Homo sapiens: one gene and its partners. The protein of the gene in region 5 interacts with the protein of the main gene of each other region in a pairwise test. Each region holds a gene or a part of one and is shown on either strand. Other genes may lie near its edges. The genes, in order: ARHGDIB, MYL1, MYOM2, REPS1 and ANKRD1.

The links.
Region 1: the proteins of ANKRD1 (region 5) and ARHGDIB interact in a two-hybrid assay, tested with the Homo sapiens proteins (one large-scale study listed by BioGRID and IntAct).
Region 2: the proteins of ANKRD1 (region 5) and MYL1 interact in a two-hybrid assay, tested with the Homo sapiens proteins (one large-scale study listed by BioGRID and IntAct).
Region 3: the proteins of ANKRD1 (region 5) and MYOM2 interact in a two-hybrid assay, tested with the Homo sapiens proteins (one large-scale study listed by BioGRID and IntAct).
Region 4: the proteins of ANKRD1 (region 5) and REPS1 interact in a two-hybrid assay, tested with the Homo sapiens proteins (one large-scale study listed by BioGRID and IntAct).

What each region holds. Positions count from the first base shown.
Region 1 is NC_000012.12:14,943,660-14,949,710, forward strand, and holds part of ARHGDIB (rho GDP-dissociation inhibitor 2), read right to left. Parts: intron 5,238-6,051; exon of another isoform or gene 5,141-5,237; intron 4,291-5,140; coding exon 4,214-4,290; intron 1,181-4,213; coding exon 1,117-1,180; intron 1-1,116. UniProt on the Homo sapiens protein: Regulates the GDP/GTP exchange reaction of the Rho proteins by inhibiting the dissociation of GDP from them, and the subsequent binding of GTP to them. Regulates reorganization of the actin cytoskeleton mediated by Rho family members.
Region 2 is NC_000002.12:210,311,268-210,317,824, forward strand, and holds the start of MYL1 (myosin light chain 1/3, skeletal muscle isoform), read right to left. Parts: upstream 3,908-6,557; 5' UTR 3,776-3,907; coding exon 3,644-3,775; intron 1-3,643. UniProt on the Homo sapiens protein: Non-regulatory myosin light chain required for proper formation and/or maintenance of myofibers, and thus appropriate muscle function.
Region 3 is NC_000008.11:2,088,987-2,095,037, reverse strand, and holds part of MYOM2 (myomesin-2), read right to left. Parts: intron 5,031-6,051; coding exon 4,847-5,030; intron 2,693-4,846; coding exon 2,518-2,692; intron 1,069-2,517; coding exon 947-1,068; intron 1-946. UniProt on the Homo sapiens protein: Major component of the vertebrate myofibrillar M band. Binds myosin, titin, and light meromyosin. This binding is dose dependent.
Region 4 is NC_000006.12:138,980,164-138,986,214, reverse strand, and holds part of REPS1 (ralBP1-associated Eps domain-containing protein 1), read left to right. Parts: intron 1-6,051. UniProt on the Homo sapiens protein: May coordinate the cellular actions of activated EGF receptors and Ral-GTPases.
Region 5 is NC_000010.11:90,910,769-90,916,565, forward strand, and holds the end of ANKRD1 (ankyrin repeat domain-containing protein 1), read right to left. Parts: intron 5,502-5,797; coding exon 5,403-5,501; intron 5,113-5,402; coding exon 5,014-5,112; intron 4,874-5,013; coding exon 4,775-4,873; intron 2,209-4,774; coding exon 2,098-2,208; 3' UTR 1,328-2,097; downstream 1-1,327. UniProt on the Homo sapiens protein: May play an important role in endothelial cell activation. May act as a nuclear transcription factor that negatively regulates the expression of cardiac genes. Induction seems to be correlated with apoptotic cell death in hepatoma cells.

The DNA of each region.
Region 1 (6,051 bases), on a different chromosome or scaffold from region 5:
AGTAAGTTGGTAAAAAAAAAAGTGAAGAACTAGGACAAATGGTGAAAATAGCCAATCAAGTTTATTTATAGGTGGTTAACTGGAATATATATTAAGAATAGTTGGGCATTGAAAAGTATACATAGGCAGATAGGTGGCATATAGTTGGCTAAGTGTTGCTAATAAGTTTGAAAAAACAGTTGCAGACATGTCACTGTCCTTTTGTCTAAGTGAGGTGATACGGGCTTTATGCCCAAAGGAAAATAGGAAATTAAACTTTTTTTTCATGAGACTAGGTATCGGAAAGGCCAATCAATATCTTTCAGGTCAATGGTCTTCTCTGGGATTTGAGAAATTGACTGGTCCTCTATGTCATCCAGATTTATCAGACAATTTCTCCCCTATCTTGCTTATTAATTTGGTGGAAACTGAGACATGCTTTGTTGTTTCTTGCCTCTGGAGGGGACAGACCCTTAGGTAGAAAGGAACTGTAAAGTGCCTCCATCACCTTCCCGCCTCTCATTTCTCCCTGCCTATATTAATGAAAGAAAATTGAAGGCAGGGTCCCAAGGCATGACAAGAAGAATTGCAGATTAAGTAATGTTGTTGTGTTATTTTAATTAGACAGGCTTTTTCAATCCTAGAAAATATTTTTTTTTCTATTTCTTTGTTAGGAAATTGAGCATTGCCTCCCCCTTCCCTCCAATGCCACCCCCACCTACTCCCACCCCAGATACACATGGCACTGGGCAAGTTTTTTCTTTCTTGGTTTTCTCTGACACTTGGGTTTTGTACCTGTGAACTGCCTTTTTTGGTTGTTTACTTTGTAGAGTATTTTTATATACTTTATTTCCTTTAAACTTATCTTGGTTACTCTTCTCCTTTACGAGTGATAATATTGAATCCAAAAAGCTGACTGCTGAACGTTAGCAGCTGATGCAGTCTAAACGAGGTCCCCTGAGCATTGGCCTTGTCAATGTCTATATCAGAGGTGTATTTGTGCCTTTTCCTAGAGCCGGCATCCACAGCTTTTATTGTATTCTCATCTGAGTCTATAGCTAAAAGTTGCTAATAACCAGAAGTTAAAGTATCAATGAGAAGCAGTTTGGGACAGTGTGGAAATGTGGGTTCCCTTACCTTTCACCCCAGTCCTGTAGGTGTGCTGAACGTATTTCAGGCCTGACACAATATCCCTGTTCACCTGCAGGTGGGAAGGAACCAAGATGTTCAGATTAAGAGGGTCTTTCATTTTTTCTCATCTTTCATGCTGATCCTGCCTAGCTGAATCGTCTCTGACAATGAAAAAACTAAAGATTTAGTTCAGAATTGGTGTTTCTATAATTATTTAGCATGGCTGTGAGGCAAAGATTAGAGAGGGGAAATCATAAAATGCAACATTGCCAAACTGGTTTAATTATCGAACATTTTGATTTTTACCGTTTTGGGAGAGAGGAGTGGTTCATTAAAACATTGGCCCAATATTCTTCATTGTATTTCTCCTTTCTCAATGGTCCCAAGAATGGCCTTGAGCTTTCCCTCTCCAATACTGCTGACCAAGAGACCATCCTTGTCTTAGGAAAAGTTATGAAGATACCAATAGAGCACATTATGTAAATATCTAAAAACCACAACCTCAGAGATGATCCACTTACCATATAAAAAACAAACAACAAGGAGGAAAGTGAAAATTCATGTCTAGAAGATGGCTGTGACTGCAATATAACTGAAATAATGGGTGAAATTCACTTGTATCTGGCAAGTATGTTGGATGTCTGTCATTTTCAGACGTTGTCTGAGATCTTGCTATTTTCCCAAGCCTTTCAAAGAAAATTCAGTAACGCAGAATGAAAATGTGGACAGCCCAAGAACTTTGTTTTTCCATGATTCATTTCACCTGGGACTGACCTGGGTTGTCTGTTAATTTTACACAGTCGTTATGTCTATACAAACAAATTAAAGTGGACATTGCATCATTAGCCGAAGAGCTTGGTTATCTGTTCACCAATGTGAAGAATTAAAGCATCTTCAAATAATTTTTCTTCAACAATAATTATGGCTGTCCTTTTGTGTTGGACACAATAGTTCAACCAATCAACCAGTGCTATCTTTTGTTTTGTTGGCAGGGAGGTGGCAGAGCAGTGAACTCTGCCAGCTTAGATTCTTGACTGTCACAGGGTAAATCTGTAGTATAAACCTATGAAAAGCTGTCAGAAAAAAAATTAGCATCATCAAAGAGACTGTGATAAAGCCCAGGCTTTCTAATACTGTGAGTCTCAAATGTAGCTCATAGGAATAGGGAAAATAAATGCACCTTTCTAGATGTCCCGAAGCTTATCCCTTTCACCTAGTGGGAGAAAGACCTAAGAAGAAGAATTATATTGGTGTAGCAATAAGGACTTCAAGACAAAGAGTCTACCATCTCACCAGCGCTCTTCAGTGGGTCCATTTAATATAAATACATTTGGGGTGGGTGAAATAAAACTATGAATATTCATAGAATCCTCTTCTTCTGCCCACATCCCCATCCCTATTGTGTCTCCCACTCCAGGGGGAAGAAGCCTTGGTGTTATGAATCAAAGTGAGAGCTGTGGAAGTCAGAGATACCACATTTCCTTGGGAGGCAGAAAAAAAGTTGGGAAGAACCTAAAATAACAATCGTAGGTCAGGTTTTTAGAAAGTGCTAAGAAGTTTGGGAGGAGAAAAAGAACATTGAGTGCAACTAACAGAGATTGTGAAAGAGGACTTAACATGTGTTACTTGTGTTATAAATGCAAACTTTCTTGGACATTTTTCAAGAGACTTCAGTGAAGATTTAAGTTGTTTTTCAAGGATTTTTGACTTTGATCTGGCATTTCTTCTAATTGTAGCACCATGCTGGGACAAGCCACAGGATGGTTCAACTTTACGTAGGTTACCCAGAGAGCCATCAAACCTCTGAATTAGAGAGTACTCAAAAGCCCCTTTCTGTGGCCTCCTCCTGCATCATCCTAATGTGTAAACCTGTCCACACAGACCCACATACCACATTCCTCCTCCACCTCCCCATCCAGAGGAGAAGCCCCTGTTCCAGAGCTTTCCTTTGCATCTTAGTCACGTCAAAATTTACCTGTCACATTTCATTTGAGGAAACCTGGTTTACCAAATAGACAAATTAATGCAATAGCATCAATGATTAAAAATGAAACTGATGTGCAACCCATTCTAGGCATATTTTGATATAATGCCTTACCAAACCTTCAGGTGCTCCAATAATAAATAATATGACAGGAAACAAGTAAGTGAACCCTAGCTCAGTGTCCATTATAGAGTAGGCATCAACAAATATTTCCAGGATGAAATTATTTTCAGTTATATTTGTATGGGGTAGGGAGGTCATCCATAAACCCTGAATCATATCCTGTACCTTGGGGAAAAAAGTTCCCAGTGTGCAAATAGAGAGAGCAGATGGAGTCTTCCTTGGTGGAGCCCAGGCCCTGGAGACTGAGGCTAAGTGGGAATGAGAGGCCACCAAAGCAAACATAAACCACGAAGTGCAAACACTGCATTTCTAACTTATTTGTTTTCAAAGTCAAAGTTATTTTTCTTGTGATTTTGGCTGCTCATTGGGATATATGGCTCATTGGGATATATTAGATGTCAGTTTATTTCTTATTTAGTTTCCTCTTTCCTGGTTACCTGTTCCACAACTATAATTGTAATTTCCAGTTCTTTAGCAAAGATCACACTTCCTGGATTTATATAATCCTTGAGCAATTAGAGCTGAGGCCCTGTCCCATTTTCTTTTCCTATTGGTTGATTCACTTGTTTGTCCACTTTTCAATATATATTCATGAACTATATGCTATTTACAAAGTTTTGTGTGAAATATTGGAAAGGAGAGATGTACAATTTCACCCTAGATTGAGGTGCTTATATTCTATGAAGAAGAAATGACACAGGTGGTACAACACAAAGCAGTGTGTGCCTCGAGGATGTGTTTGGAGTTCACAGAGGGATCCCATTGGCTTAAGAGATAATGAAGAGTTTAAGAAGTCCTGGCTAGGAAAAGACAGGAGGCAAACGTGGGTCTCAACAGGTAGCCCTCAGGGCTGGGAAGAGGACATTCCAGACCCAGCTTGGGGGTACTAGGGGAGAAACAAACAAAAAGTACCTCAACATGATCATGCAAGAAATGTAGTCACTGATTAAAGAAAAGATTTAAACTTTACAAAAACACACAAGGCAGGATACTTACTTTGAAGTGAATTTTGACTCTATATTCAGAACCTTCCTTTAACACAATGGTTTCCTTTTTGAGGGCTTCCAGATCTCCTGTAGAAGAAGATTTAGAGAGAGTTTATCCTCAAAAGCAGATACACAAGTTAATAAATGACTTTTAAGTCCCGGAAAAATTTGTTGGGCCCACGAGGGCAACATGGTTCACAGGGCCCTCAATTCACAGAGTATTTGAGTTTAGTCCTTGCACACACACACACACACACACACACACACACACACACTTAATGCCTGAAATCTTACAGCTCTGTTATGAAAAACATGAGAGTTTCCCTGCCCCCAAGTTTGATGACAATGCTAAAAATACACAAGACATTACAAATAATGAGTTGTGAAGATAAATCTTTTTTTGGTCCATTTATTCTCTCATTGAGAATTATATTACTGGTCAAATGAAGAGGTTATTAAAGAATATGCCCCTTACCCCTCAAATAAAACATATAAGAAAAATAGTATTTAGGAGTGTCAGCTATTTGTTTTTATAGATTTGGTGATGTTTGTGGCATTTTCTAGCTTTTAAAATTCTACTTGTTTTTATTCATTTTATCACTTTAAGAAAATGTTCACCTTTGTGTTTACTCTTGTATTTTCATTTGCAATTTCATACTATTTTTCTTAAGGAATATCACTGAAGTTATAAAAGCTTCAGGTTCCATAAAACCAGGATCTGTCCCAAATTCCTGTACCCTGATTAAGGAGGTAATCACTCTCTATGCTTTTCTTCATGCATAGCAGCTTGTTAGTGACAGAAAACCCAATTTGGTTTTCCTCTGCTGGGAAAGGGGACAGAGACCAAGTTTTCCTTGCAATACTACCAGGTCCTGCTGAAGAGAACAGATTTCTTTAGCGCTAATTCAGACCTTATCTTGCAAACTGGCAGCTGTACCTGGTAATATTAGGAAGACTCTGAGTTCTGGTGAGAGAGCGTGAGTTTCTCTCCTGGAGAGATGTCAGCATGTCGGGGTAGCTGAATGTGTGTGTGTGCCTGCTCTAATGATTTCAGTTGAACAGGAAGTGTGCCTTCTCAGCCTCTGATTTCCTCCCTCTGACAAAAAAGCCCATATAAGGTAAAGACTGGCTGTGTCCTGTGAGAGGGGAACTACTCTGCTGCTAACTAAGCCAACTGTTCTAGACTTGTGCTTTGTCTGTCTCACAAGAGTCCAATTTTTTCATTTGGTAACTATTTTTTTTTTCCACTAAAAACTTGCCTTTGAAGGCCCCAATCTCCTGGCTCCGTGCTTCTCCTCTCATATCCCCTCTGATGCCCATTTCCTCCACAATAACCCCCTTCCCAGTCTCTCTCCTCCTCAAGCCCTAAGTCTCAGGGAAAGGCTTGACCCTTAGTTACAATAAGGTGAAAGAAAATAACATCTTAATTTGTACGCCTTTAGTAGGAGACGTTGTTTATTTAACAAGAATCAGAGTTTCAAGCTAAAACAATTCAATCTATAGCAGTGGAATTTCTAGTATAATTCCGGATTGCTTCTCACCTTCCAGTAAGTTTTGTAGTGGATAGAAGATCAATACTTTGATGTTTAGACTGTATAAACCTTATAACTTCAGAAGCACACAATTTGTTTCTTAATATTTCCATCAGCAGTCTTTATTGCATAAATAACAATTCTCTTACTATCATGTGGAGACAAAAATCTGTAAATATATCAAATGTGTATGCCTGCACTCTCTTCAATTAAATAGAGATAAAGATTGGGCTTTTCATGAAACATGGTAAATACTGTGCACTCTAAGAGCAATGATTTGTTAACTGGTCCTAGCATATATATCTCTCTGATTCAC
Region 2 (6,557 bases), on a different chromosome or scaffold from region 5:
CTGGGCCAAAACAAATTGGGTGCCACAATGCGTATAAAACTATCTGCCTCCACTGAATACCCATCAGTAAGTAAATGTATTTGGGAACATTAGATTTCTACCTTACATATTAAATTGAAAGTTTAAATCTTCCCAGGCATGTGGTCAATTGTTGATGCAAAATTCGTTATTTGATAGTTTCTGTCAATGCATTCTGTACCTTTACCACGTTTTATAATATCGCTCACAATATCTAGTCACGGCTGACCTGATTAAGTGGTGAATACGAGAATTAAAACTCAAACAGCACAGTGAGAGACATGATTCACAATCCTATCACCTCACAGCAATACTGACATATAATGCATGCATCATGCAGAAAATTCACTTACACATTGAAGATCTACAATCTAGGTACATGGTTATGTTATTACTTTCATTATTTTGCTTGGTTGCAGTTTTGAGCAATGCATATTCTTGTTTTTGAACCTACAACCATACTTATGCTGTGTTTTAATTCCTGTAACTGTGATTCTCTTAGGCTGTGTTCTTTTGTTCTGGATTACTGGGAGTATTAGCTCTCTGAAGGCAAAGAGTGCTTAGAACCACCAAGGACAATAACTTTAGTGTTCAAATATCAACAGTATTTTGTTGTTGAAAAGGGTACTCATAGAAAATCCATTAGGATTGGACATCAAGTAAGCATTCCTTCAGAGAGTATCATAAAATTTGTGTCAGAACAATTGAAGAAATGTTGTAAACTAATAACTAACAAACCAGGAAATCAGATTGGAAAGCACATTTAAGCAGTTGATAAAACTAATTAATTATATTCAAGATTATTCAAGATTTATGGGGGAATCAAATATATGGCTATTAAATGTAGTATATTACAATATGAAACATAGATATTAGCTGGGAATACTATGGAGAAATTAAATTTTACCATGGCTATGACTATAGTACTACACAAAGGCAGTTATGATTAAACTACAGCATTACTCAAAGTCTAGAGGACAGCTAAGTTTCTAATCTTTTTTGATTTATGAAAGAAAGTTTATAATCCAATTAAGTTTTGTTCTTTATTGAATTTTCAGAAAGTTAATGAATACATATAACAGCTCTATTAATTTCTTTAAAGTTCATTTTCTCTGCTTGAAAAAATTGTATAGCTTTTATGAGGTAATATATCTAGAAACATTATTAAGTGATTAAAAACATCATAATATAAAATGTTTTAATGTATGTTTTAATTAGGCCTGTTACCTCCTGGGATAAAATTAAAGTTTATAAAATTCTTGAGTTGTATCACTTTCTTTGGCCATGCTAGAATACATCTAAATATGCACTGATTTATTTCATATTAATGAATGCAAAGCATTGAAGATATTTACATTTCTTTACAAAAGTGTGTTAGTTTCCATTTGTTTCTCTTTTTTTTCTCTGTTGCAAATGGGCCTTCTGGATGGAAGATAAAGGTTATTTTTTTTCCTGTTTCTTCCAGATTCATTTAACTTCTTTTTGATTTGTGTCCCTTACTAGAATCCATCACATCTCTTGTTCTGCAATGAAATAATAAAGATGGAGCATACCCAATTCTCATAGAGACACTCCAGGGGTATTTCCTTCTTTTGCTTAGTTGTATAAGCTTATATTGTATCCTCACAATATTACACAATATTAAGCTTGTACAACTCAATTTAACATATTGACAGACGAATGTCAATATGTCAATTTAACATATTGACAGAATAATAAACAAATTTTCAAGATTCTGAAAAGTGTTGCTTCTCTGCTGACTATGAACAAGTAATTGGCTTAATTTCTGGATTAGAAAAGAGATGTTTTGTCTTTTCTTGGAGATCTCTCACCTGCCAAACAATTTTTATTTATGTACTCATTCTTACACAGTTCCTCAGGGAAGAAAATTAATGCCTGTTTTCATTAGTTAGATACTTCATTTGCTTCTTAGGTAAAGAGGTACATTTTCTTTTCTTTACAGAAGTTTGTAATACCAGATACAAACAGGTAACATTGTCTTATAAATCACAATAAATAAAGGACTAGCTTTGACACTGATTCATATCTCTTATGTTACTACAGAGTGCAGAGTTAAAGATGAGGGACAATCAGAATTACTATCATGGCTATGATCTCACTTATTGTGTAATGTAGACAGTATGCATCTATAAAGGATACATTAACTAGGATTGCTGGAGATGAAAAATTTGGTTTCCTCTTAAAGAACTGTATGCATGCAGTCCTCAAGTTAGAAAAACATTTATCAGAAGACCTGACATGCATTTTTTTGTCCTCCTAAATGGATATCCATTAAGAATAGTTCTTAATATTATATTCCATGACCAATTTTTTTCAAATACTTCAAATACCTACAAACTAAAGATTAAATATTCGTGATAATTTACTTATACTTTAAACAAAATTTCATGTTTAATTGGAATGTTATATAAATTATAAATATATTTAACTTCATTACATAATGTCTAAGGGTGATCTAACTAAATATTTTTGGGACTTAAAAAATTCTATAGTTATATTAAATGGTCAATGAAATGTTTGTTTATGGGTCAGCATCATAGTTACAAGTAAACAATGGTAAATTGGCAAAATTGAGATTTATTACATATACAACTTTTGGCTTAAGTGAAAAGTTCACCTCATGGGTACTATTGCTCATTGATTTTCCATATAAGGCAGGTTTCCTTAGATAAAAATTTTCAAGTTGTAATATGAGCCAATCAGAACTCAGTGAATGAAGAGAAGGTGCACATTTAATGAGTCACATCACTGGAAGTTAACAGACGTACCTATTTTTCCAAAAGCAGATAATCTTTTGGCAATTGAGAACTTTGATCACAGCAAAGTGTTAACACAATAATTAATCACATTTTTCTTAGTCCAAGATCAGTAGGCAAATACTCTAAGACATAAGCTAAAAGCCATGTAAATAACAAATTTTATAATTATTTTTGTTAGTTTCATTTAGAAGAAACTCACAAATTCTGAATTAAATACTGTGTATAAATAAACAAGATGACAGTTACAGTCACTGAAACACTTGAGTGCATAATTTTCTGCACTGAGATCTCATTTAGTGTTGTATCAAATTTTATTAGGCAAAGCTGAAGGGAGAATTAACTTGAATTGCAAAAAATCTTCTTTTTCAGAAGAAGGAAAGTAACTGTCAAATACATAAAGGACAACCGGGCCATCAGCTGTTTTTAAACTTCTGGAAATAAGTAGGGGCTAAAACGTTCCTTTTGATGTAATTTGTAAGTAAGGGATCTGGTTTCCAGAGAGATTTTATTTAAACCCAAACACTGGTTTAAATATTCTTAAATGCAACACTGTTAAGCATATATACTTTTCTCCTAAACAGTATAAGTGCAATTTAGGAGAAAATGGAAACTTGAGAATAAAAAATAGAGCAAGCACAGGCTTCACATATGATACCATACTCTAATAATTTTTGAAATTATATGCTGGCATTCATTTTTTAAAGCAGGATTCTCTTCTTCATAATCTACCAGCTCACTAAATAATGCTATTCCTCTCAATGAAAAATACACGCCTTTGCAAGTTCCTAGAGATCCTTACTATTGAAAGATGTTTCAGTGACCAAACAGTTCATCCATTTAGTTACCTTAATGGCAGAGAGGTCAATTTTTTCTTCTTTGGGTTTGGCTGGGGCAGGGGCAGGTGCAGGTGCCGGTGCCGGGGCTGGGGCAGCCGCAGCCGCAGCCACAGGTTTCTTCACGTCTTTCTTTGGTGCCATTTTTTTTTTTAAAAGGGTGGGTTAAAAAGAGAAGGAGTTCCTCCAAAAGAACCTGTCAAAATGATTCTTGGAAGAGGAGTGGTGGTTGGGTTGATCCACAGCCCAGTGTCTTGAAGATGGACCCAGAGTGTTAAACGGCATAAGGGCATGCATATATATTTCACTTAGTGCCTAATAGAATCTTGACACATGCGGCTGGATTGGACAGTTCTCTAGTCAAGGGGGATGGCATTCCGGCTCAGACTATAAATGGAATCTAAAGGGTCAGGGCTTCATCAATTTTTTTTAACTCTCTTTCCTTTTTTTCTCCCCCCCCCACCTCCATATATAAAGGAGAAAGATATATGACAAAGCCAGCTTCAGATCCTTTGGTGACAGTGAGGTAGATTGACTGTACTTTTTCTTGGTAGAATTACAGTTCTGCTGAAGTTGTAAATCTTTTTTTCCCACCTTGCCTAAGAGACTTTACTGAAGGATTCCATTTCAACTTGGAATTTTGGCAGGGAGTATCACCAACTTTCACACAGCTCCTTTGCTCATGCTCCTCCCCCCTTGCCATAATTTGCAAGGAAATGTTGGTCAGCAAAGAGGTGGTGGTGGTTAAAAATAAAAAAGCAGACGTATAAGGAAAGCCCATCATGTCTTAAAGTGGCTTCCCTTCTAGGGAGCACAGACTCTGGCACTCTTTCTCTCCTTTAATTGTAGTGAATTCTATGCCAAAAAACTTCAACATGACTTCCTATAATTTAATTTTCTTTGTATAATTTAATGAAGCATATCAAATGGATGGAAATGACAGCAAGATTTACCTTCTTGCAAAACAACTTTTCTAATAGTAAAGTAGCTTCCAAGAAAAGTAGATACTTATAGATATTTATTTTCTAAATGGTGTAAAGTCTAATTATTTATCACATAAATCTTTTGTCCATACTAGAGAGACAAAATACATTTTTAGAGACATAAAGAGAGAGAAGAACTTTAATTATCAACACTGTGCAAGTTGTGGTAACTTGAAAGTTTTTCCTTTTCTGTCCTTGGTTTCCTCAGTTTGCAAGGCTAGACTCATATCGAGAAATTTAAGACCACCAATGGGCACTTTATAACTTTGTATGTGGTAAATTCTGCCAGAGAGGGGGTTACAATTAGTAATCAGTTATTTCTCAGTCCCACTCTCATCTCTGTTGTTTTAACTTGTGAGATATTTAATTAATGAGTAGTTATTAACCAGTTTAAAAAAATAGTTTGGGTTTTAAAAGAGCACATTTATACATTTTATATATATAAAGGATATATATACAAACACACATATGTTTACTGTATGTGTATATATACATATATACATTTACTGTATGTGTGTATATATACATCCATACATGTGTACAAATGTATGTGTAAATACACACATATTCTAATTGTTAAATATAGTTGTGTTTAAAGATACAGATTAATTAGCCACTTTCTTGGGTCTGATATAAAAGCATTCACCAACTTGGAGAAGGTCACTATTTCTGTCCATATATTACAACTAAGCAAGATTAAGACTCTCAGATCAGAAATAATTCACCTAAGTTACAATTGACCCACAGTTAATCAGTCTCCTTTTTCACATGGTGGCACGATCTACTGAATTATATTATCCATGTATATTACAGGAAAAACATTTTGATAGCTCCCTCCTTTGTTTCCCCATATCAAGGACTCAATCATTATCTAAATTTAGCTGCTGATACTCATTTTTTACATACAGGACAGTCAGAAGAATCTGAACATATTTTACCTAGAATACTGTCTCATATTTAAATAATCAGGATAGATTTTTAAAATAATGCTATGTTTATAACAGAAATACCTTCATAAATAGCAGAAATTTGTTCACCAGTTTTCCTTTGGATCATTCAAAGATAGATTGGGATTTTCTGCAATTACTGAGAGATAGATATATCTTGCTTTAACTCATAGTTTTTATCAATACTTTGTTTCATGTGCACAAATCCCTTAAAATCTGTGACAAGGTTAAACAGATAAAGGAGATTTATGTGTTCTGGGCAAAAATATTTTTGTCTTCCTTGCATTTGGAAAATAAATTAAAACAATATAAAATATATTAATCCATATGTTTTATCCACTCACTCAACATATGTTTTACATTACTAATGTCACCAATGATCTTGGTTTTAAAAACTCAAATACCCCGAATTGAAATAGGAACACTTTATTTCATAACATGAAGGGAAATTGTCTGATTCTACTATATACCTAAATCCCTTTGTGTTATTAACTATATATATTACTGATATATGAATGCACAGAGGAAAATATGTTGGTATAGAATTTTTTTCTCAAAGTAGAAATCACAAAGGCAAAGTACCATTCTTAACATATCAAGGGTACCTGCTCTTAGCATAGCATGACATTGCTTTGATATTAACCTTGACTCTGTGGTTGAGGTAGTCTTTGACCACCAAAAACCCATAGCCCAGTCTAATCATGAAGAAAAGCACCCACTAAATCCAAATTGTGGGAATATTCCACAAAATTTCTGACAATAACTTCTAAAAATTGTCAATGTTACCAAAATAAGGACTGTTTGAGAAGATTTTACTGCCTTGAAAAGCCTAAGGAAACATCGTGAGTATTCGTAATGTAGTATCCTAGATGGAATCCTGAAAAGAAAGGGTCATTAGTGGCCGGGCGCCGTGGCTCACGCCTGTAATCCCAGGACTTTGGGAGGCCGAGGCGGGCAGATCACAAGGTCAGAAGATCAAGAACATCTTGGCCAACA
Region 3 (6,051 bases), on a different chromosome or scaffold from region 5:
GAAGTGGGAAGATAACCCTGTGAATCCAAGGGTGTCCCATGTGGCATTTGTGTTTCAAAATGTTTCTGAGTATGCGCACTGACTTCCTGAGGTGCATTTCATGAGAAAACAGAAAGCCACGAGGCTGCAGCACAGCTTGATACAGCAACTGTTCTAGGGACGGTCCCTGAGATTTAGGATCCCAATTGTCTCGTTTGATCAAAATAATAAAAACTGTTAAACACCACTATTTACCAACAAAGTCTCAAAGTTACATAAATATGACATTCTCTGAAGTGACTAAAGTTCCTAGAACTGAGAACAGCTAAAAAGGTCATGGATGTTGCTGTATTTTAGCACATATTTTGAAAAGAGAAATGTATCCCCTACAGCATATATATATTTTTGAGACGGAGTCTTGCTCTGTCCCCCCAGGCTGGAGTACAGTGGCACGATCTTGGCTCACTGCAAACTCCGCCTCCCAGATTAGGTGACTCTCCTGCCTCAGCCTATCGAGTAGCTGGGACTACAGGCGCCCGCCACCATGCCAGGCTGATTTTTGTATTTTCAGTAGAGACGGGGTTTCACCTTGTTGGCCAGGATGGTCTCAATCTCTTGACCTCATGATCCAGCCACCTTGGCCTCCAAAAGTGCTGCGATTACAGGCATGAGCCATTGCGCCAGCCTACAGCATATATTTTAACATGAGTACAGGTATTTGGCAACAACAATGTTTTCTATTTTTAATTTGCGTTTTATTAGTGTATTATCATTTCTCCCTCTCACACTGTCATTTCCAAGACAAGCAGCCAACCGAGAGGCTTCAAAGAAACTCAAGTTCTCTGTTCAGGAATTTAGTCCCCTTTTCCCCTTCAATGACATTCCAAATGGCATCACAAATGTTTATTCATGCAGAAATGACAGTGTATGGGAGCAATCGGCACACAACAGCCTGTGAGTGACTTACTGAGTGCGGCCTGCACTTTTATGACGTCTGATTCCTGGGAATTTTCACTCATCCCCACAGCATTGACCGCCTTGACTCGGAAGATGTACTGCTCTCCCGTGGTTAAGCCGTGCACCACGAACCTGAGAAACACAGGGATCAGGGTCAGAACTGCCAGGCTCCACTTTTTCTCTCCTGCAGCAGAAGCAAAAATCACCCTGAACGCGCCATAAAAAATTTTTATGGATAACATACATCCTTCATTTTCAATTCTAGTTAATTAGCTCAACATGTAGAGTCCGACAGTAAGGTCACAGCACCTAATTATAGCAGGAGCTGACTACACGTGGTGCCAAAGCCACTTGTTCTGTGAGTTCACCTTTGCTTTTGTACTTTCTGGGCCTCCTCTGGATCAGAGGTCTATTATCCAACAGTATGCCATTTCTTATCTAAAAGAACCCGTGTATGTAAAACTTAATTAGCAGTAATTACACTGCAGTGGTTACAGGCCAAGACTTGGAAGTCAGATGGACTAGGCTCGAATACTGGGGCTTTGAAACCTCACAGATTTTATGGTCTTAATCAACCTCCTTAACCCCTGTAAGACTTTGTTTTTCTATTTGTAAGATGGGGATGATAATTCCCACCCCACAGCACTATTGCAGGCACTACATGGAAAACTCTAGGTGGACAACTTAGCACAGATGCTTTGTGTATGATAGATATTCAGTCCGTGTAAGCAATTATTATTTATCATATATAGTCAATAAATATTCACTAACCATTTCCCTGTACTGGAATCATGTTTTAAGTTTCTTATTCTGATCGATCTTTCTGCATTTGCTGTGGGCTGTGAAGAACATCTAATTGTTATTCTTTTCAATGACATCTCTTCTTGTTAGCCACCACTTTTTACAGTGTATTTTTTTCAGATTTTAAAAGGAGAAATGGCTGAGCCATAATTGATCATCTATCCACAAGGGTGGTTCTGACAGCTGCTGACATTTTCCTAAGACGCGTATCGCAGAGAAGCCTAATAACCTCAGACATCCCTGCACACTCAGCAGGCAGCAGGAGCAAGTCTCTCCAAAGGCAGGGTCACTGGCTTTCCCCTGCAAAGCAACCAGCATCCCCCGAGGCTGCCCCCACCACAAGCGAAGAGTCGGCGCCCGGTGGGGTCTCCATCAGGTGCTGGGGAATAGAACTACCAGGCACATGAACAAAGCAACTTTCAAGTTCAAAAAAATCAATACGAAAAAAATAAAACGACTTTCACATCGTAGTCACTATTTTTAACTCTGCTATTCAAAGAAAAGGCCTAAGTGCTAATTATGTCAGGGGAAAAAAAAACAGGTTCTGGAACTCTCCTTTCATCCATAAATAAATCGTTTCGGTCGACATGAGCAAGTGCAGTAACTAGCTCATCCAAGTGGTCAAACTTTAAAATTATACAGCCCTTGTGTGTGGCTAAGACAGACTCATTTACGCAGAAGCCTTGCGGCCATGGTACTCCCTGTGCCAGGGCCACAGGGACCTCAACGGTCTTGCTACTCCTGCAAGGCTGACTCCAGGGCTGGGGAGGGAGGCCGCACCTGTTGTATCCGATGGGCTTGTGGTTGCAGGGCTCCCAGAGGTTGGTTCCGGCCACACAGCAGTCCACGTAGTAGCCCAGCAGGTCCTCCTCATGCTTAGGTCGGTCCCACTGCACCACCACCGACGTCTTGGTGTTTCGGGAAGCAAGAACCCGACCCGGAGCAGAAGGGACAACTTTTCGTAGGAGACAAAAGGAGTGGTGAAATGGCATCAGAGCTTTGGAAGCTACAGCAGAGATCTTCCGGCCCTTTTCACAGGGAACTGGACAGCCAGACTGGGGGCTTTGGAAGAAATTCAGACAAGGGGTCCAGGAGTAGGAGAGGAGCCCCGGGCCGACCACCCGAGGGCCATTGGGAGGTGCTGGTCTCTCTGATCTCTTCCCAAGCTCCACACAACTCCTAGAGACACAGGATGACATCCATCCTGAATCCTCCTGTCTCCCATCAGAGCTGTTTAAAAGACTCTCTGTTGGCAGCAGGGATGAGGCTACCCGGGTAACAACTATTTTTTGGACTGGAAATTAACCAATTTTAAGAAAGTAAGACTCAATTTTATCAGATCTGTTGAAATCTCCGAGGGGCACTCAAAATTCGATCATGACCTAACCATCAGATCCTGTCATGTGGTGCCAGGCCCCACTAGTGGACTGCGGACTGAGGTCAGGTAAGGCCTTGGGGCCACCTGTGTCCTCCGTGCCGGCCACCTGGGCCACACACCCCACAGTGTGTCTCAGTGATGGACACTGTCATTTTTCATATGTGTCATAAAGCACAAGAAGGCAGGGCCTTGCTCAAAGACAGCTGGTCTTGTCAAGCCTGTGGTTCTGGGTATGAGTTCTAAGAGCTTCAGTTAAAACCAGAGCCAGATAGAAACTTGAGGATGCCCTGGAGGCAGCCGGCCTCGTGACCTTGTTCATTTCCGTATCTGGCTTTCTCAGGAAACACGACAGAGAGAGGGTGGAGGGCACCCAGGCACTCAGAACCGCGTTCCTGACACCAATGTGCCTCCCGTGAAGGCTTCTGGGGATTTCCAGGGTGCCTCCGCTTACATGCTAGTTAACTGCCATCCACGAAGGAGTTATGACTCCAGGGATTGCAATTCAAAATTTCTGTAATTTGTATTTGAAACCTTCCAAGAGGGACCTTCAAGCCAGATGGGCAAGAAACTCTAGTGCCTGGCTGGGCACCCTGGCTCACACCTGGAATCCCAACATTTTGAGAGGCCAAGGTGGGAGGATCCCTTGAGTTCAGGAGTTCGAGACTGGCCTGGGCAATATGGTGAAACTCTATCTCTACAAAACAAAAATTTTTTTAAAAAAGCATTAATTAAAAAAAGACAACAACAAAAAAGTCTAGTGCACTTAAAATTTGAATTACTTTAAAAGTGACCATTGCAGAGAAAAGGGAACACTTAAACACTGTTGGTGGGAATGTAAATTAGTTCAACTATTGTGGAAAGTAGTGTCATGATTCCTCAAAGAGCCAAAAAAAAAAAAAAAAAAAAGAACTATCATTCAACCTAGCAATCCCAGTACTGCATATATACCCAGAGGAATATAAATCATTCTACCATAAAGACATATGGATGCGAATGTTCATTGCAGCACTATTCACACAATAGCCAAGACATGGAATCAACCCAAATGCCTGTCAATGACATTGGATAGAGAAAATGCAGTACATATATACCATGGAATACTATGCAGCCATAAAAAAGAACAAGACCACGTCCTTTGCAGGAATATGAGTGAAGCTGGAGGCCATTATCCTTAGCAAACTAATGCAGGAACAGAAAACCAAATACCAAATGTTCTCACTCATAAGTGGGAGCTAAATGATGAGAACACATGGACACATAGATGGAAATACACACGGGGGACTATCAGAGGGTCTAGGGTGGGAGGAGGGAGAGGAGCAGGCAAAGTCACTAATGGCTACTAGGCTTGGTACCTGGGTGACGAAATAATCTTTACAACAAACCCCCATGACACAAGTTTACCTATGTAAGAAGCCTACACATGGACCCCTGAACCTAAAATAAAAGTTTTTTTAAAAGTTTAAATAAAACAATAAAAGTGACCGTTTCCTAAACATATTTTTCAACTCACTTACTGGTTTCATGAAAAGAAGATGGAGCTTTGGAGAAATGTCAAGAACCAAACAAAACATGGCAGAGAGCTCTTAATCTCTCGTAAAGTGAAGTTTTAAGTCCACTTGAACTTCAACTCGTTTATAACATTAATGTCTTTATTCACACAATTTAAGGCTATTTGGTGTCACCCCACTCTTAGTCCATCCTGACTTGGGGCCACCCAGTGTGACAGCTCACCGGTCACATCCTGGGCCTGAATGGGGGACGTTATCTCCGAAGGTTCGCTCAGGCCATGCCGGTTTGCTGACAGCACTCGGAACACATAAGACTTCCCTTCCATGAGGTCAAACACGGCATATCTCGGGGATCTCACAGCCGTCTGGGCGTTGACTCTCTGCCAGCTGCCGCTCCCCACCACGGACTACAAAGAGAAACAGAAACGAGACTGGCAGTGAAAACCGCGAGGTCCCCAGAGGCGTGTGGAGGAGGAAGAAATGCTCTGTTCTCGCTATCCCAGGACCACCAGGCGCGCCCGCTGCGTCTCGCACACAAAGGATGGTCATGCATCTTTTTTGAGTTTTATGAAACATGATGCCAATTTGGAGAAGGAAGTCACAAATACCCAAAGTTGATCATGTTTACTAATAAATTTTTTTCCATTAAAGTAAATAATTAAACCATAGAAAACATAAGGGAATCAATACATAGGTAGTAGTTTTAGCAAAATAGAACTAACCTGCAAATAATGAAAGATAATTTAGAAGTATATTCATAAAATTCTGTCATAACTCAGTGGTTCGCATTTCAATTTAAAGTTATTACCATATTGCAGCTACTTGCAGTAGTGATTAAATGACAGCAATCTAAATGGCTGTCAATACGGTCAGACACATGATGATATGTTCATAGATTAAAAACCTCATGGCCATTTAAATTATTGTATAAAGATCTTTAGTCTAATAAGAGGAATTATGTTATTTTGTGAAATCTAATACAGAATGCAAATTGTATGATACAACAAGAGCATTAAAATCTATGGAGAAAAAGACTATAAATATATGTACCACACGTTAATGTGGCTATTTTATATGGTGGAATTATTGCTCATTTTAATTGCATTCCATGTAACTTCTCTGTCTTTCCCAAATTTTATATACTGCTTGTTTAATTTTTATCTTTTGTAATTACTTTAAAAACCTTGATTACATGTTTTATCTTATTTTTTCACATAGAGATAAAACGCCTTTTTCGAAAGTAGTTTTGTGGTAGTAAAAGTTGGATATACACTGACCCTGGTAAGCCTGCTGAAAATTCAGATAGCAACCCAGACTTCTAGAAATCAGACTCATATTTGAAGGAGTTTTCTCTCATTTTGGTGAAAGTGAAAAGCCGCTATTTTGTATCTGCCCCGGGCGTTTGTGGTGGGAGCCCCCAGGGCGTCA
Region 4 (6,051 bases), on a different chromosome or scaffold from region 5:
TATTTTGGGCTTTGCTGGCCACATATGCTCTCTGTTGCATATTCTTCTTCTTGTGTTTACAAAACACAAAAATGTAAAGCCATTCTTAGCTCAGGGAGATACAAAACAAAGCCTGTGGTCTGCTAACGAAGGGTGCTGGTAGTGTGGTCTATGGTACTCTCCTGTTACAGCTTTGGAGTAGGACTTAGAGATCTGGTCAGAACATGCTCATTAATCATACTCTTTTTGCTCCTTTTGAAGAAATAACAAAGTATACCTTCAAGTTAGGATCTAAATAAAATTAAGGAAAAGCCTTCTCTGTTCTATTTTAGTTTGTCTTTGAGGTGAGAAAGAGTTGAAATAAAACTTTCAATCTTTTTAATGGGTACACAAAGACTTTAGAACTTGAAATGTAATTTTTAGGACAGACACATTAGCATTAATGAATCTTTACTTCAAACATGTTTAATTCAGTGCAAGTTATTTTTATGTTTTGCTCAATTTTATTAACATTCAAAAAATAAATTTCCATTGTCTTTTGGCATAAAGAGAGAGCTTAAATATTCAGGGTTCAGTTACAAGTTGGAACTCCCTGGAGCAGAACTCTTACAGTTATGTATACTAAATAGCAGTCTAGATATCTTGAAGGCAATTTACTTAAAAATTGGTCTAAGACATAGAAATATGAGACAAAAGGAGAATATGTGCTTAATTCCCTTAAGGGAGTTTGGGATTGTCTGAAAACACAGTCCTCCATTGCTTTCTAAGTGGGAAACATTTGGGGCAGCTCATATCTAATGCTTAGTTCTCTACTTAACACTGGGCTAGGCATTGCAGGCATCAGAAGAGGAGTAAGAAGCTCTTGAGGATCTTGTCAATTATAGGAGTGCTCATGTATAACATAAGGTATAATGTATGCCATAGGAGAGGTGCCAAGTGTTATGAAATGCTAAGGAGGTATGACCAAGAAAGGCTTTTTGACTTAATTCAGATGGACTTTAAATTAGGGTGGAGTGAGGGGAATGGAATTATGAGGGCTTCCAGGCAGAGAAAAGTGATCAGAAGTGGAAAGTGTAGGAGCCTTTTCAAGGACTAGTGTTTTCGGGATAACAGAATATAAAATTAGAAAGAGGCCATATTGGGAAAGACTCTGAAGAAGGGCAGCAGATAACGATATTTCAGCAAGCAATGGAGACCCATTGAAAAGTTTTTGACTTTGAGTGGCAGAAAGGGTAAGGAATGACACTCTTTCAGTGGTCTGGATTGGGTGCTAGGTCATGGACATCCAACCAGGGTGACAGCAGTAGAATAGAAAGGGAGAGACTGGATATGTTATTGAAGGACTGCTGGGTAGCCACTATATGAGGTGCTTTGTGGAATAATGTTTAATTGAGGCCAGATTATCAAGGTTGGATGGAGAGCTTTGAACTAATTGTGTAGGTAACAGGGAGTGGTAGATTTAAGAGAAATGACTCATAAAGCAGTGCTTTAGGAGTCGTTTGTCAGGGCCACAGGAATTAGAGGAATAAAACTGTAGACTTAACTTGGGGGCTGATTTTGTATGGCAGATACGAAGTGAGAAACTGGGCCAGTGGTACTCAAACATGGGAATGAAGGTGACAATGGGGAAGAGGCATTTGGCAGTGTCTAGAGACATTTTGATTGTCATAACTAGAGGGGAGAGAGCAGTTCTACTGGCATCTAGTGGGTAGAGGCCAGAAATGTTGCTAAACATCCTGCAGTGCACAGGACAGCCTCCACAAGCATTATGTGCCCAAGATGTCAATAGTGCTGAGACTGAGAAACCCTAACCTGGACTATAGTGGTGGGAGTGGGACAAAAAATCAGATATGGGCCGGGCACAGTGGCTCATGCCTGTAATCCCAGCACTTTGGGAGGCTGAGGCAGGTGGATCACCTGAGGTCAGGAGTTGGAGACCAACCTGGCCAACATGGTGAAACCCTTTCTGTACTAAAAATACAAAATTAGCCGCATGTGGTGGCGCATGCCTGTAATCCCAGCTACTCCAGAGGCTGAGGCAGGAGAATCACTTAGAACCTGGGAGGAGGAGGAGGTTGCAGTGAGCCAAGATCGCGCCACTGCACTCCAGCCTAGATGACAGAGCAAGACGCTGTCTCAAAAAAAAAAAAAAAAAAAGAGAGAGAGAGAGATGGTAGAGATTATGAAGGTAAACGTGATAGGCCTGGGTTATTTGGCAGTGTTTTGGTGAGAATACAGTGGGGCAAGGATTATTCTTTGGACACCACTCACAGTTAGAAAAGGGGCAGGAAGAGGGCTTACTTTTTAAAAGAGACAATGATGAGTTTGGTTTCAGACATTCTTAGATGGCAATTCAGATCTCTTGGAGACAGTGGGAAGTGGGTGGAGATTTGTCCACCCCAACTGCTGGTTCTTACAGCAGTTCAGGTTCAGAGGTTCGGGATTTCTTCCTCTGTTTTGCTCACCTAAGTGTTTAGGGACGGGAGACAGTGTCACATAGACTGGGCATGCACATACATATCAGGACCTTGGTTGGTACAGTAGTTTTCGGTGTTTGTTAGTAAAAGTTAGGAGGAGACTGAGTCATCTGGGGGCATGAGTGTAGAGAACAAATAACACCGAGTCCAGAACCAAACGAGGAAGGAGCTGGCATTTATCGAGTGCCTATTATGTTCCTTTAACCAGGCAAATCATTTTCATGGAAGAACTCATTTGATTCTTGCAACAACCTTGTGAAGTGGGTGTTATTCTTGTTTATTTTTATTTTTATTTTTATTTTTTGAGACAGTCTCTCGCTCTGTTGCCCAGGCTGGAGTGCAGTGGTGCAATCTCGGCTCACTGCAACCTCCACCTCCCAGGCTCAAGCGATTCTTCTGCCTCAGCCTCCTGGGTAGCTGGGACTACAGGCATGCGCCACCACCACACTCGGCTAATTTTTGTATTTTTAGTAGAGTCGGGGTTTCACCATATTGGCCAGGCTGGTCTTGAACTCCTGACCTTGTGATCTGCCCACTTCAGCCTCCCAGAGTGCTGGGATTACAGGCTTATTCTTGTTCACTAAGAACTTGATAGCAGATAAGTTAAATAATTTATTTGTGAATATTCGTATCTCTCCCTTACTATTATTCACGTCCCAGCTCTTACCTTCTCTGGTCATGTGGTTTGGGAGCAGGGTGAGGAATAAAATTCAGTTGGTCTGATTTTGACTTCCCCATAGTTCTTATGAACAGTAGGGATTTTAGAATATCTGATTTTGTGTTACGTATCAACTTACTCCTTTGCGTAGTAAGTAGTTTAATGTATGATGATGTCTTGAAACACAGCCACTTCAGAGAAAGAGGGAGATTCTTGTAGTTGGTGTTCAGGGCACACACAAATACAATTTTTCTTTATTACCACTGTCAGATGTTTTAAGGTGTGTTCATTACAGTTGCTTTTGAATAGCAGAGGAAAATCTATTCTGAGTTTAAGAGTTTGTTTTTGAAGACAGAATGTCAATAGACAAAGTGAAGGAGTGCATGCTTTGTAAAATTATGCTCCATGCCACATAATAGCAAGATGAGGGGGAGAAAAATCTGGCTCATAGGATTTAATCATGAGGAATTTTGCTGTCTGCCGAGCAAGAAAATATTCAGTGTTGTGGCTTAAAAGTCAGCTTTTCCCAAAGTAGTTTATTTTGTTTTTTAAAGATTAGGAAAGATATACTATTTACCACACTAATCAGAATGTTTTCTTAGCTTTTACCAAAAGCTTCTGTTTTGGGAAATGTCTTAAAACTTCATACAGACTTTGAATGCATAATAGATTGATAAAGGGTTCTAGTACTAACTGTTCTTTCATTGAGGTTTGTAAGCAATGTACCCTGTTAATGAAGCTGAAAATCTTTAGATCATTTGTGTAGAGCAATATCTTGTTAGAATATTTGCATAACACATAAATTTAATGGGGAAAAGCAATAACAGTGAAACAAACCATTTTGTTTTTGTCTTGAAACTTGTTTAAATCAATTACAAGATCTGGCATTAGTGATAAGTTTAAAAATAGGAAAGCAGAGCTCATTTCTGTGTTGAAAGTTATAAACTTAATAAGTCTCAGGTTTGTTATTCTGGAGTAGTGGTTTTTAGTTCTGAATCACTAAAATAATTGTAATAAACTACAGAAATAATCTTGCCATAATCACTTACCTATACACAGTTGAAAAAGATACTGTTTGTGAAAGAAGTCACAGTCAATGTGTTTCTGTAGTGTCCTATTTATTTACTTTTAAAATTTCTGTCTTCTTGAGTTTCTTGTGCTAGTTTCAGTCATTTTGTTTGTTTGTTTGTTTGTTTTAATCAATAGCCCAGAGTTAGAGTTTTAGTATATTGGGAATTCGTGCCAAACATTTGATGGAGCGACACAAGAGCATGAGAAGCTGGTATAAAGAGCACTAACTGTGGGAGGCAAGTTCCAGTTCTGGCATCAGCTAACTTTGTAACCCTGAACAAATCACAGAATGTCTGATATAGCTATGGGATTGGGTTTTCATGATTTCTGACTCAAATGAGAGTATCTTTGTGTAGGAGCGGCTAATCTATTCCAGCCACACCCCTTTAAAAGTAGCACAAAGTCTTGTGGTTAGTTGCTCCACTATCTTGACACTGGAACAGGATTATTTGACATTCTTTGAGGAATACAAAGAGGAGATATATACAAGAGGAAACTGATGAAAGGGTCATAAATCCATGGGTGCTTAGTTCTTCAAGGTCGTGAGAATTTGAAATGGGTGATAAGACTTGTCATTTCTGATGTTTTCCCTTATATAGGTTTTATTTTCTGTAGCCTTTCCTATTATAGATGCATCTTCACTCATCTTTTCCCTCTGTGTAAGAAATTTGTCTAATGGAAGTTAAACTGTATACCAGATTTCATTGAGATTTGATAAATTCTAAGACTTAGGCTTTTTAAAATTAAGAATACTACATCTCTTCTGCATTTTGTTTCAAGAATTAGCCAGGTGTTGAATTTGGGGTCTGTCTCATTAAATAATGAAGACAGAATTTATTAGTCTGTCTCTTTTGGGCTGTTGATTCCGTTGAGATTCTGCTGCACGCACTGGACATCTGCTTAGAAAACATAGTTCCACAGAATTTTGCACTTAATTTGTGATTTCCAGCCTTCCCCTAATTGAGTCAAGCTCATCTTATGGACTTCTACATTAATTCAGTTTTAAGGAAGAGCAGGCTGACCTGTGAAATGCTAAACACTTCTGTCTTAAATCAGTTTTAAATACTTTCAACAAAGACTTCTTTGTGGCTGTTCTTTGTATTGGGGGTATACATGCAGTGGTGAAGGATCAAGACATCTTCTCTGACTTGTGCCAATGTCGAAAAGAAAAAGAACTGGCCAGGCGTGGTGGCCTGCACCTGTAGTCCCAGCTACTTGAGAGGCAGAGGCAGGAGGATCACTTGAGCCTGGGAAGTTGAGGCTGCAATGAGACATAGTAAACATAGTAGTGTCATTGCACTCCAGCCTGGGTGACAGAGCAAGTCTCCGTTCCCCCCCCCCCCCGCCCCACCCACAAAAAAAAAAGGAAAAAAGAACTGTGTACAATAATAGAGAATCATTGGGTGGTAGAATCAGAGGAGGTAGTGGGGACCTACTTAGGTGTAAGGGAAGGCCCCTTAGAGGATGCCTGGATGGGGGGTCAGGGGAGGGAGAATAAGGTGTTTCATATAGAGAGAACTGGGAAGGGCCTGAGGCTGTGAAGAGCACAGTGTGTTTAAGGAACTGAAACTGTGGACAAGAGGGGAGAATGGCAGGGACTGCATAAGGCAGGCCCTTGTACTCAGTGATAAGGAATTTGGATTTTAGTGGAAATATACTAAAAGTTTTTATTCGGGGGTGTAGCATCATCTGAATTATATTTTAAAAGATCATGCTGACTGCTGTATGAGCAAAAAGAATACTGGGGGCAAGTGGAAGCAGATACGCTAGTGGATATGCAACAGTCCAGGCAGCAGACAGCAATGGCTTAGATTAGCGAGGTGGCAGTAGGATAGAGAGCAGTGGACATCTGTGAGAATTTTTTAG
Region 5 (5,797 bases):
AATCTCCAGTTAATTTGCATTTTTCTAATGATCAGTGATATTGAGCTTTCTTTTCCAGATGTTTGTTGGCCACATGAATATCTTCTTTTGAGAAGTGTCTGTTCGTGTGCTTTGCCCACTTTTTTGATGGGGTTGTTTTTTCTTGTAAATTTAAGTTCCTTGTAGATTCTGGATGTTAGAGCTTTGTCAGATGGATGGAGTCTGAATGGCAGTTACTTAAAAAGTCAAGAAATAACAGATGCTGGCAAGGTTGCAGAAAAATAGGAACACTTTTACACTGTTGGTGGGAATGTAAATTAGTTCATCCATTGTGGAAAATGGTGTGGTGATTCCTCAAAGATCTAGAACCAGAAATACCATTTGACCTAGCAATCCCATTATTGGGTATGTACCCAAAGGAATATAAATCATTCTACTACAAAGATACATGCATGCATATGTTCATTGCAGCACTATTCACAATTGCAAAGACATGGAACCAACCCAAATGCCCATCAATAATAGACTGGATAAAGAAAATATGGTAGATATACACCATGGAATACAACGCAGCCATAAAAAGAATGAGATCATGTCCTTGGCAGGGGCATGGATGCAGCTAGAGGCCATTATTCTCAGCAAATTAACACAGGAGCGGAAAACCAAACACCGCATGTTCTCACTTATAGGTGGGAGCTGAACAATGAGAACACATGGACACAGGGAGGGGAACAAAATACACTGGGACCTGTATAGGGGGTGGGGTGGGAGGAAGGAGAGCATTACGAAAAATAGCTAATGCATGCTGGGCTTAATACCTAAGTGATGGGTTGATAGGTGCAGCAAACCACCATGGCACACGTTTATGTAACACCGCTGCACATCCTGCACATGTACCCCAGAACTTAAAATTTAAATTTAAAAAAGTCACTAGTTAAGCCTTAATGGGAACTTCGTAAGAAATGCGGGTTTACCATGCAGAAATCATTCTGACCACCAGGGGTCTCTTTCTACACACCACTGGGACTGAAAGCTCGCTAGAATTCCTTTGTGTCTTTATGGCTCTCGGCCTAGCTGCTCAGTGTGGTGGTGGCATTTCGTGGCCTGTCACCTGGGAGCTTGTCAGAAAAGCAGAATCTCAGGCCCCACCTGAGACCAGCTGAATCAGAAATCTGCATTTTAACCAGATCCCCAGGTGATCTGTATACATATTAAATACTGGGAGTGCTGTTGTACGGGACATTTCTAATCTGCAAAACTTGGAAAACAATGGAAAAAAAAAACCCTCCTATATAGCTTTTTTTTTCACATAGGACATTTCCACCACACTTATAGAAGGACTTAGAGGTTTAGAGTTTGATTGCCTTTATTATGAATATAAAATGTACATACAATACAATATACATTTATACATTTACAGTTTGCATTTCCTTTCATCTTTTTTGAGCAAATTCAATTCTGCATGTCCCAGTTTGCCGCTCCTTCCACTGATTTGCACTTACACTCATGACGTTCTCTTCACTTGGGTACTCTGTGTACTCGGTAAAAAAAAAAAAAAAAAAAAAAAAAAAAAATCCAGCCTGGGGGTAAAATAGCTGGCTTCACTGTCCTTTTCACAGAATCACTTTCCTTCCATTGTTTCCTTTCCTGTCCCTACATGCCTTCCCTTGCTTCATTCAAACTTCTGCATTAAAAATTCAGGAGAAAAGAGGGCTGTGATAATCAGCCCTCTCTTAAAAACTCTTACATGAGCGAATGACACATAAGTAGGCACTTGAACTTTGCTCTTTCACCTGGTTTAAGAACTACCTATGGGTGGGAAGGCTCTGAAAGTGTTATATACAAATGAAGCTCTGCTCACCAGATGGATGATCATGAAGGTCTGAATATCAGTAGCGTGGCAGTAAATAAATAAACAGGAATACATAAAAATAAATAAGAGTTTCACTAAAGGAAATTTAAACACCTATAACCCTGTGCTTTCTCAAAACTTCATTAGGTACATCTTCACAACACGTTGATAAATAGAAACTAGATTTTATGGCTAGTGTCTCTTCTCTTGGGCCATGCCTTCAAAATGCCAGTGAACATTTACTGATTAAGAGTCTGTCGTTTGCCTCAGAATGTAGCTATGCGAGAGGTCTTGTAGGAGTTCTCTCTGAGGCTGTCGAATATTGCTTTGGTTCCATTCTGCCAGTGTAGCACCAGATCCATCGGCGTCTTCCCAGCCTAATCAAATGAGATAAGGAAAGTTGACTTTCAGGTGGGTGACATCTGTAAATTCACATTCTCTGTGTGTGTTTCATGAGGTAAGGATTAGGTATATGTTATAACAGTGTTTTATGGTTTCCACCAGGAGTGATCTGCAGTTTATACTCAAACCAGTCCTTCACTGTTTCTCAGAGGGATGCTTTTGCCATTTTAGAGCAAAAATCTTTTTCACGTGGGACCATCCCAGGTATTGGTAAAATCCCTTGTCCCTAGACACTATGTGTCAAGAGCACCTCAAGTCATTTTGAAATTTATAAAATGTCTCCATACATCTTCCAGTATCCTGTGGAATGGACTCCCGGAGGTGGGAGCATGCCTCTTGGACCAAGAATCAGTGCCTATCCATTTGAATGATAGTTCTTTGATTGATAAGAAATGATGGTAAATGAGCTGCATCAATAACTTGGCTTAAGGACTTAGGTACTGCTTGGGTACTATTACTGTTCCTGGGAGCAGATTTTTCATAACTTGTCAGAATTTTCAATGGACTCTCCCAGGAAATGTATTTTTCTTGGAGTTGATGGCAATGACACATGTGAACAAATAATTTTTGAGACGAAATTTTGATTTCCCTTATGCACGTGTCTCAAGATTTAAAAATATTAAAACCATGTCATCTCTCAATTCTCATCTATAGATCTGAGAAGTCCAAAATTTTTCCATCTCTATTCATTGAGAAGTTTCTTTTTAACCCAGCGACTGCAAATTGGCAGCTTTGAGATGCAAACCAGAATAGAGACCTGTTTTGTTTTGACCCAAACAGAACTTAGATTTTTTTTAAGATTAGTATGAATTGGCAACAGTTGGAAACCAAGAGCTGGATTTGTGACTTCTATGAAAAAATCAGAAGAGTTAAAAACATGGTACCCATGGTTCCACAGAGCAACATAGACTGGGTTGGGGAAGGGCCACCTTTAAAAGAGTTATGTGCACAGACCCTGACAGCCACACATTGAAGTCACTTAGGCCATCTGCCCGGCACAGTGAGGTCAGTCTGCAGTCAGATTATGAGATCTGTAGGTATTTAAATTAGTGGCCCTATAACCTTCATTTTGGAACTTCCCCACCTCTGTAGTGTCTTTCTCTAGGAACAATCATCAGTAGACATGAATATACAGTTTTGGATAATGAGAAAATATTGTATGCTGCTCCCAATCTCCTTAAGATGGCATCAATAGGTTATTGATCTTTGGGGGAAACATCAATCCATTGGGTCAATGACATTAATAGTTCCATAAACCTGATGCTAATATCTAACTGATAATTCAGAACCCTAAGCCGTATTTGTATATTTTGGGCTACTCTTCCATAAATTCCTTGCACTTCTCTCCATTGAAATTTATATTGTGATTTTTCTGGCTACTTACACAGTCTCCCTAAACCTGTATGCTATTTGTCTCTGCTGGTAGTGTCTCACTGCCTGAAAAAAAATCTTCACATTTTCTGCAGCTTTCAAGATTTCATTTAACCTGCTCTTTTTCTGATAGTTTAAAAAAATATTAGATAGGATCAATTCCAATATCTAGACTGAGGAAGCCCTACTGTTAACACTTTCCCATCCCAAGCAATCTTCATTTATCACCATTCTTTGATCCTGTCACCAAGCCAGATTTGTTTTAAAAGATAAGATATTCCTCTCAGTCTTTGCAACACAAATAAGGGGAGAAAATTATTTGCATTTATATGATGACTGAGTTTCCCTCCCCCCCCCCCCACTCTTTTTTGTAAAGTGATTCTTCAAAAGCTTCTTTAAAATTATTTCTTCAGAAATTTATACCTGTTCCTCTGGGCAATATTTTTTAAGCTTATATTAGATGGTGTTTGTCTGGAAATTGAGACCATGAGGAAAAGTTGGTTATGTTCCCTGCTTACAGATGAAGTTAAATTAATATGTACTTATACAAGAATTTTCAGGGCCTAAATATAGGAAATTATTTTGAGAGATGTGAAGACAAATCCAAGTGGAGAATGGATAGAAATTATCTGAAAAAAAATACAGGCAAAAGCACAGCTACCCCTGGAAGAAAATGGTGACATTTCACATTGCTGTAAGGAGGAAAGGGACTTTCTGAATTACTCAGATTGGATATTGATTAACCTTAGTTCACTGGCTGCACTGACCCTTGTGGAATTTTAGGACATTTTGGAAATGGTGGATGCCTTTATTTCTAACTTCCTCAGCCCTTGCACAGACAGAAATGGCCAAAGCAGATTGGACTTCTAGGTGTTTGTGGGGATGAGCAAATTTTGACTATCTTTCATTTCCAAGACCAAATTGTAAAAGAATTACTATGCACTGTATCAGGCACTGAGGTCATAGCAGTATCTATGACTTCCCTCATCTCTGGCCATGTGAACTGGGTCCTAGCCAAGATAAACACTGTCCTTGGGGAAATGGGCAGGGGCATTTAGACCATCGAAGACCCCTCAAATACTGCCATTGTGGGAGTCGTTTCACCTATTTAAGAAATGCTCCTGGAAATTGGAAAGCTTGCAAGCGGTGTTTCTTGTTTCCAGTACTTACACAGTTCTTGATGTTGAGATCCGCGCCATACATAATCAGGAGTCGGATCATCTTATAGCGGTTCAGTCTCACCGCATCATGCAACGGGGTATCTCCTTCCTAGAGAAGCAGAGTCAACAGGTTCAAGGTGGGTCTGAGGCCAGGAAGTGGGTCCTGCAAGGGCACCCAGGCTTGGGGGAGTGATTCCAAATACAAAAGCAATGAAGCTTTGGGAAACCCGAGCGTGTCCAGCTACTCACTCTGTCTTTGGCGTTGAGGTCTGCCTCACAGGCGATAAGATGCTCCGCGCACTCATAGTGGCCAGTCCTCACCGCCACATGCAGCGCTGTGCTGAGCAACTGGAAAATTGGAAAACGCTGCTGATTCGCTAGGAATGAGGACAGAGGCTGTCCCAGACCCCAAGACATGTGCGAGGGGGAGAAGTGGTCACTAGGGTGCCTGCACACAGCATGGGCCTCCAGATGACTTTAATGGAGAGGCGAGGTTAGGAGATGGAGGGGTGGGGGAGGAGGGAAGGGCGGGTGGGGGAGAAGGAGGAGGGGGAGGGGGAAGAGTGGGAGAAGTGGAGAAGGATGGGGGACAGGGAGGGGGAGGGGGTGAATGAAGGGAGAAGGAGAAGAAGGAATACCTTATCTCGGGCGCTAATTTTTGCTCCTTTATTCAGCAACAATTTTAAAACATCCAGGTTTCCTCCACGGCTTGCCCAGTGGATGGCTGTGGATTCAAGCTATACCGGGAGGGAAGACCCGACAATGTGAAGGAGAATGTGGTCTGGGGAATTAGAACCTGGTTGCTAGGGCATCCGTGAAAATAATGAGTTGTCCCCATCTAGATTGACAATTCTAACTGGAGTCGAAGGTTCTTACCAAATGTGTTAGCTAAATTACATGTGTGTGTGTGTGTGTGTGCATATGTGTGTCTTATTAGGAGGCTCTTAATAAATCTAATAATGTTTTAAAAGAATAAGAATGGCCACTTATTGAGACATTTCTCATGCCAACATGGTGCTACACTTTAGACACC